7 separate regions of the Homo sapiens genome follow, and regions 1, 2, 3, 5, 6 and 7 are each reported to be linked to region 4. The links are microRNA targets in miRTarBase. Many come from high-throughput screens and were not tested one by one. Region 4 holds a microRNA gene; each other region holds the end of a gene's coding sequence.

The links. Region 4 holds the annotated microRNA hsa-miR-1305 (UUUUCAACUCUAAUGGGAGAGA, at 1,386-1,407, shown strand). A microRNA usually pairs through its seed, bases 2 to 8, with sites in the 3' UTR of a target mRNA and lowers its output. Matches are read on the target gene's strand: a 7mer-m8 pairs with bases 2 to 8, a 7mer-A1 pairs with bases 2 to 7 and ends in A, and an 8mer does both.
Region 1: miRTarBase lists UBR3 as a target of hsa-miR-1305. Seed matches in the 3' UTR shown: 8mer at 2,387-2,394.
Region 2: miRTarBase lists RC3H1 as a target of hsa-miR-1305. Seed matches in the 3' UTR shown: 7mer-A1 at 1,597-1,603 and 7mer-m8 at 223-229.
Region 3: the mRNA of LVRN is a reported target of hsa-miR-1305. Seed matches in the 3' UTR shown: 7mer-A1 at 845-851 and 8mer at 940-947.
Region 5: miRTarBase lists ZNF225 as a target of hsa-miR-1305. Seed matches in the 3' UTR shown: 7mer-A1 at 2,611-2,617.
Region 6: miRTarBase lists FCGR2A as a target of hsa-miR-1305. Seed matches in the 3' UTR shown: 7mer-A1 at 580-586.
Region 7: miRTarBase lists TRIM4 as a target of hsa-miR-1305. Seed matches in the 3' UTR shown: 7mer-m8 at 2,498-2,504.

What each region holds. Positions count from the first base shown.
Region 1 is chr2:170,081,429-170,084,547 of GRCh38, forward strand. UBR3 (ubiquitin protein ligase E3 component n-recognin 3) reads left to right here. Exons shown (of 39, transcript NM_172070.4): 39 at 298-2,703. The coding sequence ends at 415. Among named protein-coding and RNA genes, the nearest start is that of MYO3B, 95 kb to the right of the region's middle.
Region 2 is chr1:173,935,945-173,939,063 of GRCh38, forward strand. RC3H1 (ring finger and CCCH-type domains 1) reads right to left here. Exons shown (of 20, transcript NM_172071.4): 20 at 1-2,927. The coding sequence ends at 2,777. Among named protein-coding and RNA genes, the nearest start is that of SERPINC1, 20 kb to the left of the region's middle.
Region 3 is chr5:116,025,696-116,028,695 of GRCh38, forward strand. It overlaps LVRN (laeverin), which reads left to right. Exons shown (of 20, transcript NM_173800.5): 20 at 283-1,911. The coding sequence ends at 423. Among named protein-coding and RNA genes, the nearest start is that of ARL14EPL, 5.3 kb to the right of the region's middle.
Region 4 is chr4:182,167,958-182,171,076 of GRCh38, forward strand. MIR1305 (microRNA 1305) reads left to right here and starts at 1,336; the gene lies at 1,336-1,421. It also overlaps a transcript of TENM3 not described here.
Region 5 is chr19:44,132,383-44,135,501 of GRCh38, reverse strand. ZNF225 (zinc finger protein 225) reads right to left here. Exons shown (of 5, transcript NM_013362.4): 5 at 680-3,119. The coding sequence ends at 2,767. Among named protein-coding and RNA genes, the nearest start is that of ZNF234, 7.6 kb to the left of the region's middle.
Region 6 is chr1:161,517,917-161,520,916 of GRCh38, forward strand. It overlaps FCGR2A (Fc gamma receptor IIa), which reads left to right. Exons shown (of 7, transcript NM_001136219.3): 7 at 59-1,913. The coding sequence ends at 232. Among named protein-coding and RNA genes, the nearest start is that of TRG-GCC2-1, 4.5 kb to the right of the region's middle.
Region 7 is chr7:99,889,301-99,892,408 of GRCh38, forward strand. It overlaps TRIM4 (tripartite motif containing 4), which reads right to left. Exons shown (of 6, transcript NM_033091.3): 6 at 1,103-3,108. The coding sequence ends at 2,863. Among named protein-coding and RNA genes, the nearest start is that of OR2AE1, 14 kb to the left of the region's middle.

The DNA.
Region 1 (3,119 bases), not on the chromosome of region 4:
GGCGGAGCTTGCAGTGAGCCAAGATCGTGCCACTGCACTCCAGCCTGGGTGACAGAGTGGGACTCCGTCTCAAAAAAGAAATAAGTAAATAAAAAATAAAAAAATAAAAAAAGGAGGCAGGCATGGTGGTGAGCACCTGTAATCCCAGCTACTCGAGAGGCTGAGACAGGAGAATTGCTTGAACCCAGGAGGCGGAGGTTGCACTGCGAGAGACTGTCTCAGAAAAAAAAGAAGAAAGAAATGCATGTGAAATCTTCCGTGTATGATATTAATACTTTTTTTTTCTTTTTGTTCTAGGCGAGGCAAACCTCTCTACATTTGTAAGGAAAGATACAAAGTTCTTGAGCAACAGTGGATTTCTCATACTTTTGATCACATCAATAAAAGATGGGGTCCACATTACAATGGGCTGTGACTCTCCACCTCAGCATTGCATCGTATCATCATTTTCGCTACGAATTTATTTTTCAACAATAAGCTTTAACTTAATTTGGGGGATTAACACTTTTGCTGAGGGAGAAAAAGAAAACATACATTATGAAGCCTTTCCAAAATTAGGTGCTTGGTAATCACGTTAATGGTATAATTTTTTTTTTTTAATATCTGGAGAACATTAATAACAAGTTAAATTATTCTTTAGTGGTCATTTTTTAAGTGCACAATTAATAAGAAGCACAACTTGTTCACAAACTCATTCAGAAATGATTCTCCCAACAATGCGTATCAGCTATTCATTGATACTTAGAGTGGGTGTGATTTATTTGACATTTTACTGCTTCTTTCTGTCTGTGTGTTTTAATTTGCATCTGCCAAGCATAATGCATCTTTTTTCCTCTGCCATTCTTGTGTTGATTGGAGAATTTTTCTGTATGTAATTAGAAAAAAATGTAAAACATGATTTATGTGAAATACTGTATAGTAAAAGTTGGTCTAATAGTAGAACTTTAAAATTTTTTCTTATTGTGAGGAATCTGTTAAAAGTTTAAAGCTTTGCTGAAAACTGAATTCATTCTCAGGAATTTCATAAATCTTCTCCCCAGGTAAATAATTGAAATAGCTGTAAAATAAGTAGATAGCTGCTGTTAATATAATACAGTACATTTTGGGGGGCATATGTGTGGTTGGGGGGTCCTTAAAAATCAAAATTTGCCATTTCAGTTGGATGAATTACTAGAGGTAATAACAAATCTTACTATGAAATCAAGAGGTTTAAGAACATACACTGGGCAGATGTTGATTCCGTGCATGCCCACCTTTTATTACCAAACAAGGTTTTGTTTATATGATTGTATTAGAAATGCTCAGACTTCCCCAGAAATGAACCATAAATTTTGGAACTTCCTTTCAGCTCAAGAGGTTCAGCTATATTGTATTTGTGCAGTGTAATCACTACTATTTCTGCTCGGTTTCCTAAAAGGAAAAAAAAGGCGCAGTGGTGATGACCCTCATGAATGAGCCACGCTTCTGCATTCTTCTTAGAAACTGCTGTGAAAAACAATTTATGTTTGCAGGGTTTAAAAATCAGTAAAAATGGGAATGATTGAGCTAAAACCCACTCTATGAGAAGGAAGATTACTGAAAAGCATGTGACATATTGCTACAAAGATTTTTTTTCCTAAATGATTCAGTAATTGAATGATTATTTAATATATAGTGCTATCAAGCAATCCCTGGTACTTTGGACTTCCATGGCTTGTTATATAAAATTACATTTTTACATGTAAAAATAAACTAAACAAATCTAATGATAAAATATGTCAGATCCATGTTCTAAAAAATTTTTGTAATGACATGACATTACAAGAGTATAAAAATGGACATTAAATCATGGCCTTGCATTAAAATATGGAAAGCAGAGCAGTACATATTCAAATGTATTCAGAAAGTCAAAAGATTACCTATCGTTCTACAATAAAATACATGGAAATAGCTTGCTATTTTTATATACATTTCCAAAATATTAAGATAACTTTCTGTAAGAGTCAATGATTCTGTTCGACTAAATAGCTGTCCTTTCCAACACATTGCTACTTTTTTAAATACTGTATCATAAGTTCAGCCTGTCATACTTTTTGCATTGATCGTTATGAATACCAGACCATTTGTAAGTGTGGTTGAAGAGCAAAATGCTAATTGACATCTCTAGTAAATACTGTTACAGGATTCATGAACTTGAATAATTCTACAGTTTGAAACTCTGATGCTATATATACATGGTATAATGTATTCAGACTTTGATTACTACTTATTTAAAATGGAATGTTTTATGGTTGTGCATATGGATGTGAAGTGAAAATATTAGCCTTAACTTTAAAATTTGGGTGTTTGATAGTGTTTATTTTGATATTGGTGAATTAGTCACCAGTAAATTTTAAAAAAGCACTTGGTTGAAAATTGTACTTGAATACATACATGCATGCTGCTAAACTAGAACTTTAATTTTTCCCCATAACTTTTATAAGTCCCATTTATAAACCCACTTTTAAAAATAACAGGTCCAAGTTAGAGTGATGTGTGTATATTATTCAAAAAAATGTACTGGTGTGATATCTTGTATGAATGATCATTTAAATACAGTACATTACTGTAGAAGCTAAATTGATCTTTATAATTAAGCAGAAATTACAAAACTAGGAATAATCAACATTGTAAGATATGTTAATAAAAACCTGCTGTCATTTGGTTTGTGAAAGGTCCTTAAAATGTTTACTGCTTACATGTTTTTTTTTCCCCCAAAGATATTGACAGTAATATATGTGAGTGAACATGGCTGAAAAGATCAAAGCACAACATAATTAGTAGTTGCTTTAGGGTGGAGTAAGTGTAAAGGGTTTGCTTTGCTTTTTTTCTTTTATTTGCAGAGTGAGTTCTTGCTTCTTCAGTCCTTGTCTCATAATCAATGCACATTCTTTGCTAAGTGTGTGTGTTTGGTAGGGGGAGAAGGAAATGGGTATGTAGATCTGAGGAATTGTGATCTCTGTTCTTTTCTGAAAGTTCCCAGCCAGACTTCAGAAATGTTTAGTGCTTTATGAGAATGTTTATTTTGAGTGGTTTGCATTCTTGTTTGAATTGACAGTCCTCACCCCTACCTCTCCATCCTGAAGCTCACCAGCCATTTA
Region 2 (3,119 bases), not on the chromosome of region 4:
AAAGAGATTTTTTTTCCCCCAAATGAAAATACATGAAAAGAGAAAGATACTATTTTAAGTCAAGTTTATACAGTGACTTTTCTGGTTTTGTTCAGAACAGGAATACTGTATAAATTAATCCCTGCTCCTGCCTACTTCACAGAATCAAAATGGCAAAAGCCAAGAACAAGTGTATTTAAAGGAAATGAGAACAAGAATAACAGAAACTGAGTTACTAAGGGGTTTCAACTGATATCCAAAATGAATCTTTACTTTTATTTTAAACTTAAACAAAAATTAATACCCACAAATTATCTTCTAATACAAGAATCATTCTGAATTCCAAAGTGAATCAACTGCTTCTAAAATTTAGGATGATCTGACATACCCAAAGGAGAAGATCAGTCCAAATCTGCTTATAAGAAGGTTGTAGTACAAAAATTAGCTGGACGTGGTGGCGCGTGCCTGTAGTCCCAGCTACTCAGGAGGCTGAGGCAGGAGAATCGCTTGAACCCGGGAGGTGGAGGTTGTAGCGAGCCGAGATCAACCCACTGCACTCCAGCCTGGGCAACAGAAGCAGACTCCCTCTCCAAAAAAAAAAAAAAAAAAAAAAAAAGAAGGTTGGAGGCCAATAATGTTGCCTTTTACTGTTATGCAGAGAAATGAAAAATCTTGGGACTCTGTCAGACATACAAAAGTTTCTTTCCTTCTCCCAATAAACAATAGGCATTTAAAGTGGAAATGTAAAAGGGTTTTAAGTAAAAGTCAAAAAGCAAACAAAAGCCAAAAAAAAAAGAAAAAGCATACATATATATATATATATATATATATATATATATTTTTTTTTTTTTTTTTAAAAAAAGAAGACAAATGTATAAGAAAACTGGAAAAAAAAAAAGCCTCACCTTCATTCAGTGCTTCTACCACCTCCCAATCGGTCAATTTATCGCAACAGCTGCGCTCATGCGAAAAAATCCTTAAAACATACCCAATATATATACAGATATAGCTATGTATATATGTATATATATAATATATATATAAATTTTTATTTAAATAAAAAAGAAAGCTCGAATCCCAAGCCAATATGTGTATATCAAATCCTTGACCAGCCAGGTCTGTAGGGCATAATCAAATTCAATGTGAAATAGTATATAAACACGGTGCCTTGACTGGGCAAATTAAATAATTGCTACTCAAAAGAGTGTTCTGTTTGGACTCTCCTACTGGTAGGCAATGGCAGGACTGTATTACCCTTCCCACCCCCACCACCCATTTGTTTAAGTTAACAGTATGATGGACACAGAGCTTAGACTGAGGTTGTTATGACCTCAGCAGGAGTTAAGGGTTAAGAAAATAAGAAACAAGAAAAATATAAACTCTTGTTTTTACTCAACCAAAGCAATGTAGTAACTTATTACATAACCAGTGCTTTCTAATTTAGTAGTAAAATACAGAAAGGGAAACTGAAAAAAATCAGGCAAATAGAGGAATGGAGAGGGCAACTATATCAAACAGTCCCCACTAAACACGTTTTATAGGGTCTTAGTTAATTAAGCACAGACACATGGCATCAGAATATGTGCAGCAGAATTAAAAAAAAAAAAAACCTTACTCTTTTCAATATTTTCATGAAGAAACATTTGCAACATTGGACAGTTAAGTCTATGAAAAATGACTTCAAACTATTTCCTACCTACTTATACTAATGATTCTGAGCAACAAGTGATCAATTCATAAACTATCCTTAAGACTCAATCAGTTCACAAGTAAAACAAAACATCCATTAAAATAATGTGGCTCTATTCATTTTAAGTTCAAATCAAATGTTGCAGTTTTAAAACATAGTTGATTGTCCTTGTTTTTTAGCATCCTATGATGTCAGCAAAAGTTTAATTTGAAAAGCACTGCTTCAAATTTCCAACCATGAGCTGAACGCAGGCGAAACACCAAACATGTATTTTCAGTGCTAGTAAGTTACAGTTAATTCTTGATCAACATTTAAATCTAATTAAACACTGAATCAGCTTTCTGATTATATTAAGAGAATGCAAATGATCCTTAATATGAAAATGAGGACTTCAAAATTGGTAATTCTATTTGAAAAGTTGAAAATAAAAACAAGAAATAAAACCCTCCCAAACAAACAAAAAGCTTCAATGTCAAGAAAAATATACGTATCCAATGAAGCTAGTGATCTAGAAAGGGATAAAGAATTCCAAATAACAGCTCTGGGAAAAGTTGGTTTGCTGCACATTTTCTAATAACTCAGTCTAGTACTGTCTGTTTCTCAAGCACCACAGAATTCTCTGAAAGCTGACATTTTTGGTCTGTTTTAAGTTTATGGGGTGGTGAGAATTGATAAGGATTGGGGGTGAGGAATTATACAAATTATACACTGGGTATGTAATACCAAAATACAAGAAAACCTACTTCATTAAGATCATACAATTAATCAAACAGAGTGTATATATAATATCTTTTTTTTTTAAAGCCCTGGATCCAAGGCGTCCAAAGTTATTAAAATAAAGTTCATTCACAGAACAAAAACAAATTTAATCTGAATTGCTTGCAGATACTGCTAATTTTCTTTTTCTTTAAATTAAAAAAATGCATTAATGTGAACTATGTGCAGGGTTTGTTTTTAGTAGTGGTGTTTGTGCACATTGCCTCTGGTGAATTTCCTGGATTTCTCTGACCGCTCTTAAGAGAAAAAGTTTAGAAGTTATGCGTTCTCCTACCCCTATGCCCGACAAACTGATTAGGAGCAGAAGATAAAAGTAGGACTCCTCATATTTTAAGGAGCAGAACTGGGAGTAACTCCTGATCTCTGGGAGTCATTATTATCCCCTCCTCCCTCAGGGTCCTCTGACAGGTTCAGAGAGCTGGTCTTGTTTGATAGGAGGCTGATATTCTCTTGTGTCAAGGCTGATCCATTTGGTACATCACTGCTGACATTTTAAAATTTTGAAAAAGGAGAGAGAGAAAAATGATTACTACAATAAAATCAACAGGGGATATAATTTAGCATGATTGAAAATATATAAATGGCTTCCACATTTTAATCTACAGCCCCTTATCCATGTTTTAGCACACAGTTGGCAAACTAAAGCTAGCCAGGTGCGTATTTTTTTTTTCAG
Region 3 (3,000 bases), not on the chromosome of region 4:
TAAATATTCATTGAGACTCAATATGTGCTTTGGGAATAAGGCATAGTTTCTGCTTCATGCACCTTCCTGTCTACATCTGCTTCTTTGGGGTAGGTGTGGTGTTCATCACATTGTCTCAGTCACAGTCTCCCCAGGGACACACAACCTAGGAGTATACATTTCTACTCATTCCAACCATCATCACCAATTTACAAACTCATGTTGCTACTTAGCATTTAGACATTTACTTTGTCCAAATGGGAAGTTGGATTGCACTGATCATCTGTCTCTCTGTCCTTCCAGCTGCAGCAGTTTTTCAGTAACATGTTGGAGGAACACCAGAGGATCAGAGTTCATGCCAACTTACAGACAATAAAGAATGAAAATCTGAAAAACAAGAAGCTAAGTGCCAGGATAGCTGCGTGGCTAAGGAGAAACACATAGCTTGTGGCTATCTTTCAGCACTCCTCTTGCATATTATAATGTAGTTTGTTCACAGTTTTGTCTTCCAATACTTTGTGAGTCTGGAAAACCACACATTTTATTTGTATTTCAGTCACATTTATTACTCAGAGTGCCATTCTTCTCATATTGTCATGTTTGGCCCTGAGGGTGGGTGATTGCTGACAATTTTGCCAATGCTGCTGTATTTCTGGGAAAGATGTCACTTCATGTTGGGTTATAATCCCACAGAATTTACTTTAAATGTCACGTAAAAACAAATTCACCTAAGATAGTCTTGCTTATTTTGTTGCGAAGGCCAGTGGAATATAAAAATCAATGGCATTAATGAGGAGCACATTCTTTGCTGAGGGAAATAACAGTTTTTCCAGGCCCTAGGGTTTATTTAGTTCAACATTGAAGATTGAAAAGACTAATGAGAAGATAACATGACAATATAAAAAGACAGAAACTCAAAAAGTATATTCACTAGAAGACAGTGGAGCCAAAGAAAAGCAAGTTGAAAAAGAAAGAGGAGACAATTTAACGAGCCCTAAAGGCAAGAAGTGTGTCTTCTCCTGCCCATTTCTCTCTCCCACAGTACATCCTGCATTGAACCACGTGTTGCTGGTTACTAAACTTTATGGTGTCACAAAAAGACAAATGATTGTAGGATCCATGGAAGTGCACTTAGGCTTGCTGTGGTGGAGGCCATAGTGGAGATGAAGGCTCTGCTCTGAAGCTCTTAATTGTGTATTCACCAGTGGGATGGACACCCTTTCAGCCTAAGCGTACGAGTGAAAACAATGATGTCAAAAGACAATAGCAAGTATAGGCTACTATTTAGGGCAAAAGGAATCTTGAAATGAAAGAAACAGAACTAAAAGGCTAACTGGAGCATAATCCTTACAGTTTTGCACTCAGGGGATTAAGTTTGAAACATAGTGTCTTTTGGCCAAATTGAACCTACTTGTAATGTGGACCAACTTACTTTACACATTTTCATCAGTCCCAATGTATGGAATTAGCTTAGTTTTCTCATGCTTGATTAAAACAAGACAACTAAAGCTAATCATTCCTCTTCTAGACTTTGTGTATATGATTTAATCTTTTATTTTTATTTTTGTAGAATGGGGGTAAAACTACAAATCTCCTCCTCAGGGTGATATTTTTAAAGATTAAGGAGTATGACATCAATTAACAGTCTTTAAAGATGTTACATACGCTCAAAGCAATGTGATTAAGACTTTTTGCCTATTTCTTGTATAAGTTAAGGCAGCCATAAATGAAAATACAAAACAAACGTTTGCTTTTGTATTTGATTCACAAGAGGATTCTCCCTGAGTGTCAGGGGAGGCTGTGGGACTTCACCACGTGGACAAACGAAAGCACAGGCTACTCAGACTTGGCCACAGGTCATAGGTCAGAGAATTTTTTCTTCAAATGTAGAAATGTAAATTTTCAGCAATAAAATATCTGCATGCCTACAAAGTGTTGTAGCTGAGATACCTTCCTGTTTTTTTTCTTAAACACTCATTCTATATTTCCCATATTTCCTCTGATAATGAATCTCATCTTTCAATAACTTTGTCTTCACTTGTCCTCTCAACTGCTTTTCTCTTCCTCTTCTTCTTCTGTGTCTTAGTCCATTTTGTGCTGCTGTCATAGAATACCTTAGACTGGGTAATTTATGAAGAACAGAGATGAGTTTCTTACCATTCTGAAGGCTGGAGATTCCAAGGTCGAGGGGCCTGCATCTCACTAGGGCCTTCCTGCTGTATCATCCCATGGTACAAGGCAAGAGGGCAAGAGAAAGAAGAGGGAAGAGGACTGAACTCATCTTTTTTATCAGGAACCCTCTCCCAAGACAACTAGCCAACTCCCATGATAACAGCACTAATCTATTCATGAAGGCAGAACCTTCATGACCTAATCACCTCTTAAAAGTCCCACCTCTCAACATTGCATTGAGGATTAAGTTTCCAACACATGACCTTGGAGGGACACATTCAAGCCATACATAGCTCTCTCCTCTGTTTCCACTCCCGTTCTTTCTCTATCAAGCTGCCTCTTCCCTTCTCCCCTTTTCTCCTTTCTCCTCTTTCCAGTAATCTCTGCCTTACTTCTGCCTGGTTGTTCTTATCCTTGCTCCTTGATCTTCCTACCCAACCATGCTCTCAGTCCACCAAGCGTGCTTTGAGGCTGACACTCAGTGTCAAGAAGGCTCTGATGCCTGGTATTGGGTGATGCCAAGAACTACTGATCTTGCCAAAAGAGCATGTAGGCTGGTCTCTCCAGACTGTTAAAAGTTAAACTGAATCCTATTACATCTTAGCTTCTGTAGTAATTAAATAGTGCTGAAGGCGTTTCTCCAAAATCAAATTCCCAAATATTTAATTAATAGTCTTTCCTCTAAATATGGGGAAAAAATGGATGATATACCATTTTTACTTACTTGGATGAAGCTGGCTACTTAAGCACTGCATTTTATTATGCTTTACCTTATACAAACTATAAAAACAAGTAATTGTTGATTGGTTTCTGTGATAGCAATAATGCAGTAACAAGTCAGGGAGTGGT
Region 4 (3,119 bases):
TTAAATTTGGATATTATTATAACGATATTTAGTAAAAAGGACAAACTTGAATTTCTGTTCATCCCGTCACACCTCTCGATTAGAGCTAGGTGAGTTACATGTAGTTATAAACTAAAGGGACTAGACCCCAAAGCTATGTTCACTCTACTCTTCACTTTTAATCACATATATATTTTCTTTTCTTTTTTTTTTTTCGAGACAGGGTCTCACTGCAACACCCAGGCCGGAGTGCAGTGGTGCAATCACGGGTCACAGCAGCTTCCATCTCTGGGGCTCAAACAATTCTCCCACCTCAGCCTCCCGAGTAGCTGGGACTACAGGCATGTGCTACCACGCCTGGATAATTTTTCTATTTTTTATAGGGACTGGGTCTCACTATGTTGCCCAGGCTGATCTCAAACACCTGGGCTCAAGCAATCCTCTTGCCTTGGCCTCCAAAAGTGTTGGGATTACAGGCATGAGCCACCGTGCCCAGCCCACATATGTATTTTCTTCTCTCTGGGAAACTAGCCTTCGTTTTCTCCAATTATTGACTTATTTCTTTTTCACCCAGGCTTTGTGTTAAGCTCCTGGATCTCTATGAAACCGCTGCTGATACTTCTATTAGCTTCTGTTAAAAGAAATGAAAAACTTCACCTTACAGGTTTCTTTCAGCATCTCTAAAAGTCTCTGTTGTTAATATAGTATTGAGACTTATCCCCACCATAGTCATTTGCATAAAATTATTATACTGTATATAAAAGTTTAAGATGTAACTTTAAATGAACATGAATTATAGGTATGGATAATTGCATTAATTTTGGAAATTTGTGTTGAATTTTCTTCTCTAAGTGGATATCTCTTAGTGCTGCTCAACAGTTAGCCCATTTTATCTCTTCATTTATGTTGGCCATTTTTCATTTATATCTTCTGAAAAAAATTCATGTATATGTTCTGAAAAAATAACACACTGTATACAATTAATTGTATTTGCCCAATTTTTTAGAATATTTGTTTATATGTATACTTACAGGCTTAAAAAAATCATTCACATGGTCCAAAGTGACTGATGTTTAAAAGTGACAGCTATATGAGGGAAAACGTATATGGACAGATATATGTCATATAATCATGCCATACACACACACACACACACACACACACACACGTGGGTGTGAATGAATGCCATCTTCTAAGATCTGTACATTTGACCACTATTAATCTGTGGTTCTTGAAAATTAATGAGATTAATTCATAAACCAAGTGATTTTTGAAGCCTGCAGTCTGGCGAGTCAGGTTGGTTCTGTTCCTTTAGATAGCTTAACTGAGTACAAAATTTGGGGTATAGCATTTCAGAAGATCCTGCTGTTTCTACCATTAGTTTTGAATGTTTATTGTAAAGATACTTTTCAACTCTAATGGGAGAGACAGCAGGATTCTCCCAAAAATTCAAGTAAAAATCTGCACGAGGAAAAGAAGTCTCCTGAGATGGATTGAATTCTTCTGAAGAGAAAAATATATAATTTACTACCACCTAAAATATGAATGAAGATATATGTGAGGAGCTTTTTAGAGGAGAATTTATCTTATATTTATTATCAGAAAGTGCTGTGAATTTAAAATCTTTCTTTTGCCCAAGTCAAACAGAATTTCCAGTAATAATGAGAAACGTGTGACTCTTGACCATTTTGTTTACCAAATAATGTAGTGTGAGATATCTCTACTACAGTAATAACTTCCGGTGTAATTTACATTGGCGTTTGTTAACAGCAAAAGACCTCTCCTGTGGGGGTTAAGAATATTTAATCCTTTAAAGCTGACATATATAACATGTAGCTATGTCAGCTACAGCTGTTTCTAAACATCAGTAACAAAATTATAGACAGGTTTTGAAGCTTCTGTGGTGGGAATGAATACATCTGAGGATTCAACTTGCTGACAGTGTTTTTGTAATTTAATCTTACCATCTGGTAGAAAGTAAACATTTTTTATAAAATTAAAGTTTATAAAGTGAATCGCTTATAGTTTCCGATTGTTGTGAATGACAAATTTAAGTGTACTTTCATTGAAGAATGAATGGAGATTCTGCCACTGTTTTGAGATGCATACTAGATCGCAACTGATTTTGCCATTTGATCTTCATTGGTTCCTTGAACAGTAAACAAATTGGCACTTTCATGTCAGCTAAGGATTCTGTGTTTCATATGTCTTTCATTCCTTTAAGATAGCATACATGTTGTTACTTGTTTTGCACAGAAGAAACTAGGGCTTGGCAATTTGTATGTCGGTAATGTCAGATAAGTGATGTCACAAATAGAATGTACCTCTGAACTGAAAATAAATGATTTTTTCATTGCATTTCATACTTTCTTCTATAACGTAGTTATATTTGTATAATATGCATTTAGCTATTGTCTAAACTATTATGGTGTAATCCAGTGTATTTGCTTTGCAAGTAGCACCTTTCTTTCTCCTTAGAAGTTGGCAAATTAGCAGATTTGTGAAATTGACAAATTGGTTTACAAACCCTGCCAAATTCAAACTTTATAAATCTGATCTACGCCTTTTACTTGAAATAAATATACACGCTGATAGACTCTTGTGTTTATAGTTGTGCCCTGTGTTAAATTGAAAGCCTACACTCTATGATGATGTAATAAAATTTAATTAGTTGTAAGTCAGGTTTTGGTTAATGGTAATTAGTTTAGTGTATAATTATTACATCTAATAGCAATCTGAAGTCTGCAAGCATTTTGATCTTTTTCCAAGTAAAAAGAAAAAAAACCACAAAGCTCCTGTAAGATTTATAGCAGAAATTGCAATAATAAAATCACATTAGCTAATTTCATTAGATAAATCACAGAAAATGTTAAGTGGCAAAGTAAAATTTCAGTGATGATGTACATGTGTTATGTTGAGCTGGTACATAAAATATTTTTAAGTGAGTTTTTTTTCTTTTCAATTAAAACTATCTAATGCGACTTTTGATGCTTCTTACTATTTAAAATACATCATCGGTAGTTTTGCATGGCAAAATTAAATGTTATTCCCATAACAGCTATTGTAGAGTGATCATCAGGGTCAATACATGCTTTAAAAATCAAAGAAATTTTATTAATAAATTTGAAAAATACCTTTAA
Region 5 (3,119 bases), not on the chromosome of region 4:
CACCCCATCAAAGGAATTGTGGATTTGTAAAGTGGACATGTCTTGGAATTTATTTTTGGGCTGTGAGTCTGCATTAGACGATTCAAGTTACACTTTGGTTCACTTGAAATAGAAACCTTCTACCTATATAGATTATGTAACAATTTAATAGACTTCTCATAAACTTATTTTTTTGAGATGGAGACTCACTGTATCACCCAGGCAGGAGTACAGTGGCACGATTCTGGCTCACTGCAAACTTCCGCCTCCTAGGCTCAAGCGATTCTCCTGCCTCAGCCTCCTGAGTAGCTAGGATTGCAGGCGCACACCACCACACCTGGCATATTTTTTGTATTTTTAGTAGAGATGAGGTTTCACCACATTGGCTAGGCTGGTCTAAAACGCCGCCTCAGCCTCCCTAAATGCTGGAATTACAAGCGTGAGCCACCATGCCCATCCTCATCAATTTATTTATTATGTTATGGATAATAAGACCAACAAAGGAAGGTCAACTAACCTGACTTGAAGCCTCCCTCCTTTTTCAAATGCAGAGGAAGGATGATAATCTGTAATAATCCCCACCGATTGTGAAAATATAACCAAGTCAAAGTTATATTAGGGAACTCACCAGTGTCCACAAAAGAAAAAGGAAATCAAATCTGTGGTGAAAAATGGCAAAGAATATTAGCCCCACATAAGCTCAGGGTACTAGATATAGAACTAGGTATTTAATATTCAGCGTGGTTGGGAGAAACAGAAATATTAACAAGAAACACAATCAGTCCCACATGTTAACACCATGTTGTAACCAAGTTGATGATCCAGGACACACCAGAGAGCAGACATAGACCCTACCAAACTTTTAATAATTATAATAAGCAAGTATTTTCTGTTTAATCTGCTGAGTGTTCTGTTACAGTTACCTTGGAGATGAGCTATTCTGGTATCGGTGACAGTTAAAAACCAAAACACACAAAACAAAAAGAAGACTGAGCCAACAGTTTTCTAGTACTATGTGCACAAAAAGTTAATATAACAGGCCTGAGACTGCAAATCTTAGAAAGGACTGCTTATAAGACTGGCCTTTAGCTGGTGTTAGGAAACACGGAGTTTGAGAGGGTTGCCACCATTCCATAACTGGTAGGCATGGTTCAAGTTATTCTGAACACTTGCTCCCCTTCTTGGAGTCTAGAATCTTGATATGTACCAGAGGGATGGTACCTACATGATTAGTTCCAATAAGAACCTTTGGTACGGGTTGATAATTAATTTCCATTGTAGACATTTCACAAGTACAGTCACAATTCAATACTGGAGGAATTGAGACCTGTTACTCCATGCACAAAGGATCTTTACAAATTTACATCTGATTCCCTCCAGATATTATACAAGAACCTTTTCCCTTTGCTGATTATTTGTATCCTGTCACTATAATATAGTCATGAGTACAACTATATTCTGAGTCCTCTTAGCAAATCATAGAATCTGGAGAGATTGTCTTAGGGACCTCCAACCCACTATGCAAATTGAGACAGCATGGATCTTCATAAAGTACCTAGCATCCTGAAAAGATACAGTCTAGAACATTAAGTATAAAAATCAAATCTATCTCTAGTAGATTTGATTATAAAAATCAAATCTATCTCTAGTAGATTTGATTATAAAAATCAAATCTATCTCTGGTAGATTTGATTATAAAAATCAAATCTATCTCTAGTAGATTTGATTATAAAAATCAAATCTATCTCTAGAGATAGATTTTGCTGAAGAAAGCCTTTTAACCTAATGTACTCAAAATATCACCACGGTGTCTATGAATGGAATGGCGCTCAATCCTGCTCTTTGTCCTAACTGGTTCCAGACTGTTAGAGGCCGCACTGCTGTCATGCTATTGTTCCCTACCCATACACACCTTTTCTTAAAAGAATCTTTGTTGATTTTTTACATCCACATGTATACCCCTTGATTTCTATCTCCAGGATTTTTCCACTCCTTCACTTATGCTTAAAGCGAGCTCACATGCATTATGTATGAGGACAGCTGAAGACACTCACCAATTTTTCTCTATATTCAAACTAGAGAATTTTTTTTTGAAAACCAATTTCCACAATCTTATTCCTTAATTTTGAGTCATGTCATACTATTATATGATACTTGGTACATATCCAAAGAAAAGGAAATCAGTATGTTAAAGTGTTATCTCCACCCCCCCATGTTTATTGCAGCACCATTCACGATAGCCAAGAAATAGGCCAAGGTATGTAATCAACCTAAGTGTCCACTGGATGAATGAATAAAGAAAATGGGGCAAATATACACATCAGAGTACTATTTAGCCATGAAAAACAACAAAATTCTATCACTCACAGCAAAGTGAATGAGACTTACAGGGCATTATATTAAGTGATATATGCCAGGCACAGAAAGATACATACCACATGTTCTCACACATATGTGGAAGCTCAAAAAGTTAACTTCATAGAAGTAGAGAGTAGAATAGTAGTTCTTAGAGGTGAGGAGGCAGGGTGGTAGCCAAAGGTTGGTTAATGAATACAGAAATACAGGCAGGTAGGAGGAATAAGTTCTAGTGTTTTACACCACTACAGGGTGACAGTAATTAACAACGTATTATTTTCAAATAGCTAGGACAGTGAATTTTAAGGGTTCCCAACATAAATAAATGATAAATGTTTGAGGTGATAGGTATGTTAATTACACTGATTTGATCATTACACATTGTATACTTGCATTAACTATCACACTGTACCCCATAAATGAGTACAACAGTTATGTGTCATTTAAAAATAATGACAAAAGCGTATCAAGATTCAAGCGCCTCTTGTAGCGCTTCCCACAGTCCTCACATTTAGATGTTTTCTCTCCACTTTGGTCTCTTTGTTGGTCTTTAAGGCATGAACTGTGCACAATGCTCTTCCCACAGTCCTCACATTGAAGTAGTTTTTCTCTACTGTGGAGTCTCTGATGGGTTAGATGAGTTGAGGCCCATCTGAAGCTCTTTCCACACTTCTCACATTTGTATGGCTTTTCCCCAGTGTGAACCCTCTGATGGGAATGAAGCTGTGAATTCTCAGTAAATCTCTTCCCACACTCTTCACATTTGAATGGCTTTTCATCACCAT
Region 6 (3,000 bases), not on the chromosome of region 4:
TGTATTTACCTCCCCGGTGTATTGAATTATCCTATGGGTTTTAAATGCTTTCCTGCAGCCACCTGGACGTCAAATGATTGCCATCAGAAAGAGACAACTTGAAGAAACCAACAATGACTATGAAACAGCTGACGGCGGCTACATGACTCTGAACCCCAGGGCACCTACTGACGATGATAAAAACATCTACCTGACTCTTCCTCCCAACGACCATGTCAACAGTAATAACTAAAGAGTAACGTTATGCCATGTGGTCATACTCTCAGCTTGCTGAGTGGATGACAAAAAGAGGGGAATTGTTAAAGGAAAATTTAAATGGAGACTGGAAAAATCCTGAGCAAACAAAACCACCTGGCCCTTAGAAATAGCTTTAACTTTGCTTAAACTACAAACACAAGCAAAACTTCACGGGGTCATACTACATACAAGCATAAGCAAAACTTAACTTGGATCATTTCTGGTAAATGCTTATGTTAGAAATAAGACAACCCCAGCCAATCACAAGCAGCCTACTAACATATAATTAGGTGACTAGGGACTTTCTAAGAAGATACCTACCCCCAAAAAACAATTATGTAATTGAAAACCAACCGATTGCCTTTATTTTGCTTCCACATTTTCCCAATAAATACTTGCCTGTGACATTTTGCCACTGGAACACTAAACTTCATGAATTGCGCCTCAGATTTTTCCTTTAACATCTTTTTTTTTTTTGACAGAGTCTCAATCTGTTACCCAGGCTGGAGTGCAGTGGTGCTATCTTGGCTCACTGCAAACCCGCCTCCCAGGTTTAAGCGATTCTCATGCCTCAGCCTCCCAGTAGCTGGGATTAGAGGCATGTGCCATCATACCCAGCTAATTTTTGTATTTTTTATTTTTTTTTTTTAGTAGAGACAGGGTTTCGCAATGTTGGCCAGGCCGATCTCGAACTTCTGGCCTCTAGCGATCTGCCCGCCTCGGCCTCCCAAAGTGCTGGGATGACCAGCATCAGCCCCAATGTCCAGCCTCTTTAACATCTTCTTTCCTATGCCCTCTCTGTGGATCCCTACTGCTGGTTTCTGCCTTCTCCATGCTGAGAACAAAATCACCTATTCACTGCTTATGCAGTCGGAAGCTCCAGAAGAACAAAGAGCCCAATTACCAGAACCACATTAAGTCTCCATTGTTTTGCCTTGGGATTTGAGAAGAGAATTAGAGAGGTGAGGATCTGGTATTTCCTGGACTAAATTCCCCTTGGGGAAGACGAAGGGATGCTGCAGTTCCAAAAGAGAAGGACTCTTCCAGAGTCATCTACCTGAGTCCCAAAGCTCCCTGTCCTGAAAGCCACAGACAATATGGTCCCAAATGACTGACTGCACCTTCTGTGCCTCAGCCGTTCTTGACATCAAGAATCTTCTGTTCCACATCCACACAGCCAATACAATTAGTCAAACCACTGTTATTAACAGATGTAGCAACATGAGAAACGCTTATGTTACAGGTTACATGAGAGCAATCATGTAAGTCTATATGACTTCAGAAATGTTAAAATAGACTAACCTCTAACAACAAATTAAAAGTGATTGTTTCAAGGTGATGCAATTATTGATGACCTATTTTATTTTTCTATAATGATCATATATTACCTTTGTAATAAAACATTATAACCAAAACATTCTGTTTACCTTTTCAGGGCTGTATTGATTGGGGTGTAGACTGAACTATCCGGGGTCTGTTTCTTTTCGGTGATGAAAGTCTTGAGAAGGTAGTAATGGATAAGATGTGAGGGAGAGGAGAGAGGGAGATTTGGAGTGTAGGGTGAGTGCCCCTCTTCTTAGAACTGAATACTCTTCTTCTAATGAACTTGTATTCTTGTTTCCATGTCTTCTTCCCTTTCCTTCTATAGCAAATAAAGCATTCACTTTGTTTTGGAACACAAGTTGTCAGAAAGGCAAACTTCAGGTGAATTGTCAGTGGAGACTGCTGACTTCCTGCACTGCTATTTTCCCAGTGCAGTTACCAGAAGGATGTGACCTTCTCAGAGAAGTCATTCCAGGCAGATTAGAAACATGACCCACAGTCTCCTTGATGGTTTGGTGAGTGCCCTTAAAGAGCCTTCCATTTTCCTGGGACACAGCATCACTGTGCACAATTCTTGCATTTGAAAAGTAGCAGCTTTCTCTGTTGGATAGTTTACATCGATTTTTAAGGAGGCTATGGAGCTTCCACCCACCCTTCCAAACTCTATGTATTAGTCTGTCTCTATGTATTAGTCTGTTCTCACGCTGCTATGAAGAAATACCTGAGACTGGGTTATTTATGAAGAAAAGAGGGTTAATTGGCTCACAGTTCCTTATCGCTGGGGAGGCCTCAGGAAACTTACAATCACAGCAGAAGGCAAAGGAGAAGCAGGCACCTTCTGCACATGATGGCAGGACAGAGTGAGTGCAAGCAGGGAAGGTGCCAGACACTTATAAAACCCTAAGCTCTCGTGAGACTCACTCACTATTATGAGAACAGCATGGGGAAACCGTCGCCATGACCCAGTTACCTCCACCTGGTCCCACTTTTGACAGATGGGGATTATGAGGATGACAACTCAAGACGAGACTTTGGGTGGAGACAGAGCCAAACCATATCACCCTAGACAGAGGCTCCTCAAATATGTAAAGCCTTGTTAAATCCTGCTTTTACATTAAAATGCACCCAACAATCTGACTGCTTCTCAGTATTCTACTCCTACCACCCTGGTCCAAGCCACCATCATTTCTCACTTGGATTACTCCAATAGCCTCCTGACTGGCCTCCCTGCACTCACCCTTGCCATCCTATAGTCTATTCTCACCATAACAGCTATTGTGATCTTTTAAAAATGTGTGTCATATTTGTCACTTCTTTTCCCCAAATCATATACTATCTTCCCCTTGTGGTTGGAGTAAAGGCTAGAGCTTTTCCAATATTCTACAGGATGCTACAGGATCTTGCTCTTCACTCTCTCTGACCTCATCTCCTACTGCTTTT
Region 7 (3,108 bases), not on the chromosome of region 4:
AAAATGAACACCTAGGTCCCATCCCATACCTGATGAGACCAGAGGGGTCAATATCAAGACTCAAGCACAGAGACAAAGAATTGTGAAGAATAAGAAGGGTAGGGGAAAAGAATTTTTTCTCTGTTGAAGATGCAAGTTCTTTGCAATCGTATGAAGGGGGACTCATGAAGGCTTAAAAGGAAAAGTTTGGAATCATTGCCACCAAAGACGTTAAAACAAGTCAAGTGATAAAAAAAGTTTACCATGCAGCTCAAAGGGCCCACTTGAAGGCAGAGAGCAAGGATTTATAGCAGAATCAATCAACCTTTCAATAGCCAGAAGGAAGAGAGGAGGGAAGGTACTGATGAGTTTCCAAAGGATTAGCTATTAGTAAGACAGGCACTGAAGGACGTCCTGAAGGGCAAGTGTAGTCATCATTTCCTAAGGTGGCCATAACAAACTGGGTGGCTTAAAACAATGGAAATTTACTGTCTAACCTCAGTTTTGGCAGTTAGAAATCAGAAACCAAAGTGTTGATGGGGCCATGCTCCCTTCAAAGCTTCTAGGGGAAGATTCTTCCTGGCTTCCCCCAGCTTCTGGTAGCCCCAGGTTCCTTGGCTTGTGACAGCATAACTCCAATCCAATCTCTGCCTCCATCTTCCAGAGCCTCTTTCACGTTGTTTCCATCTGGCATTTTTCTGTGTGTGTGTGGGCATGAGTGTGTGAACATATGCATAAGTTTCCTTCTTTTTATAAGGACACCAGTCATATTGGGTTAGAGCCCACCCAAATGACCTTATCTTGTTTACATCTGCAAATATCCTATTTCCAAATAAGGTCATTTTCACAGGTAGCTCTTCAACATATGTTTTTGGGGAACATAATTCAACCTATAACAGCAAATATCCTGGGAAGTTGAGAACTCAGTAGAAACTGTTGAATGAGGGGGCTGCTCAGGCTGAATAGGAAGACAAGCCAAGATGGCTGATGTATAAGAAGGGGAGGAGGGGAGGAGGAGTTAGGGAAGATGCTGTAAGTTGTGTAAGAATCCTCACTACCACCATTCAACCCAGCAATCCCATTATTCGGTATATGCCCAATACCCAAAGACATCATTCAACCATAGAGACATATGCATGTATATATTCATTGCAGCACTATTCACAATAGCAAAGACATGGAATCAACCTAAATGCCCATCAACAGTAGACTGGATAAAGAAAACATAGTACATATACACCATGGAATACTATGCAGCCATAAAAAAAGAATGAGATCATGTCTTTGCAGCAACATGGATGGAGCTGGAGGCCATTACCCTAAGCAAACCAACACATGAACAGAAAACCAAACATCACATGTTCTCACGTATAAGGGAGAGCTAAACATTGAGTACCCATGGACACAAAAAAGGGAACAACAGACACCAGGGACTACTTGAGGGTAGAGGGTGGAGGAGGGTGGGGTATCAAAAAAGTATCTATTGGGTACTATGCTTATTACCTGGGTAATGAAATAATATGTACACCAAACCCCTGTGACATGTAATTGATCTATAGAACAAACCTGCACGTGTTCCCCTTAAACTAAAATATAAGTTAAAATAAAATCCTCGTTAAATCACTGCCTGAAAGTCTTTACTGAAAATCTGGGAGAAAATATATTGAAATGTTAGTAGTGCATAACTTTAATTTTTATACTTTTTGCATCTTACAAACTTTCTACAATAAGTACACATGACTTATATAAACAGAGAAAAGCAATCATTATCTTAAAAATAACTATCCAGTAACTGCCACAATCTCCTGAGTCCAGACAATCTAGAGCAGAAGGGTAGACTGAGGAAAATATACACAGTATAAAAAAGTAACAAAATCAAAACCTGAAACAAAGATCAACATCCAATAAATGCTTCTGAATAAAGGGAGAGTAGATAAGAACTGGATTTTAATCCCAACACTGCCATTTACCAGCTGGCCAATACTGAGCTAGTTACTCTAAAGAGTTCAGTTTTCTCATTTGTACAAATAGGATTTGACTTTCCATCTCACTGAGTTGTGATGAGAGTCATATGCAACAGCATATGAAGAGGCTAGCAAAAGATATTTAACAAGCGTTCAACATTCTCATGATGACATGAATAACACTGTACATACAACATACCAACTTGATAAATACACAGCACAGTTAATAGCTGAGGGCAGAGTTATGGTTGGGAAGAGAGAGAGTGCAACATAGGCAGAGTGAGGGGGGATTCCCACAATTTTCTAAGACAGAAAAGTGGGGGAATCAGTAGTTACTGGAAAGAATAGGCAATGCCTGACTGGATAGAAAAAGATTCTATGCCTTTGTCAAATTTCACAAAAGTGACTTAAGCCTATACTGCGGGATGTTCACACTACGTCCCTTTAGTGCAGTTACGGTACTTCAGGCTGCAAGTAACCAAATACAACTAAAATTGTCTTATACAATAAGGGCGTAATTATCTCATATAACAAGAAGCTTGGCATGAAGGAAATTTCAACAATTTCACAACGGCAACAAAAACTCTGTTTCTTCTACCTTTCCACCATTCCTGTGTTCTCAGTTCCAATATGGCTGCTAACATCCATATGTCTTCCCCGCACATCTCTTTAAAAGCTACAAAAAGATTTCCCAAAAGCGTCTTGGAAAATTTCCTGTCCCATCTCCATTGGCCAGACCCACCTCCCATGGGACTGCCTCTTGTGAAGCACACAAAGGGCAGATACCAAACGGTACCGTTAGGGAGACCCAGAAGATGGACCATCCAGGATAGAGACATGAAGGGCAGAAGAGGGCCCAGGGATGTGTGTCCCTCAGCTGGACTACAGGGAAGGAGTTTTGGTCAGGGGAAGAAAAGCCTCATTTCCTATCAGTCACTGGTGGAATGACTAAAGATGCTAATGGACTCAACCAAAAAAATGGCCGGAGGCGTGAGACAGAAGAACAAGAAAAGGTGTGCAGGTGCACTCCGTCCACAGCGCTGTAGAAGGAGACATTCCCAGTCCCACGATCCAGGTAAACCCCCACTCGGTGGAGAGCTGGCTCTTGCTGGGTGGGAGTTCCAGGGAAGCCTATCAAGGGCCAATAGCCAGCAGCACTCCAATA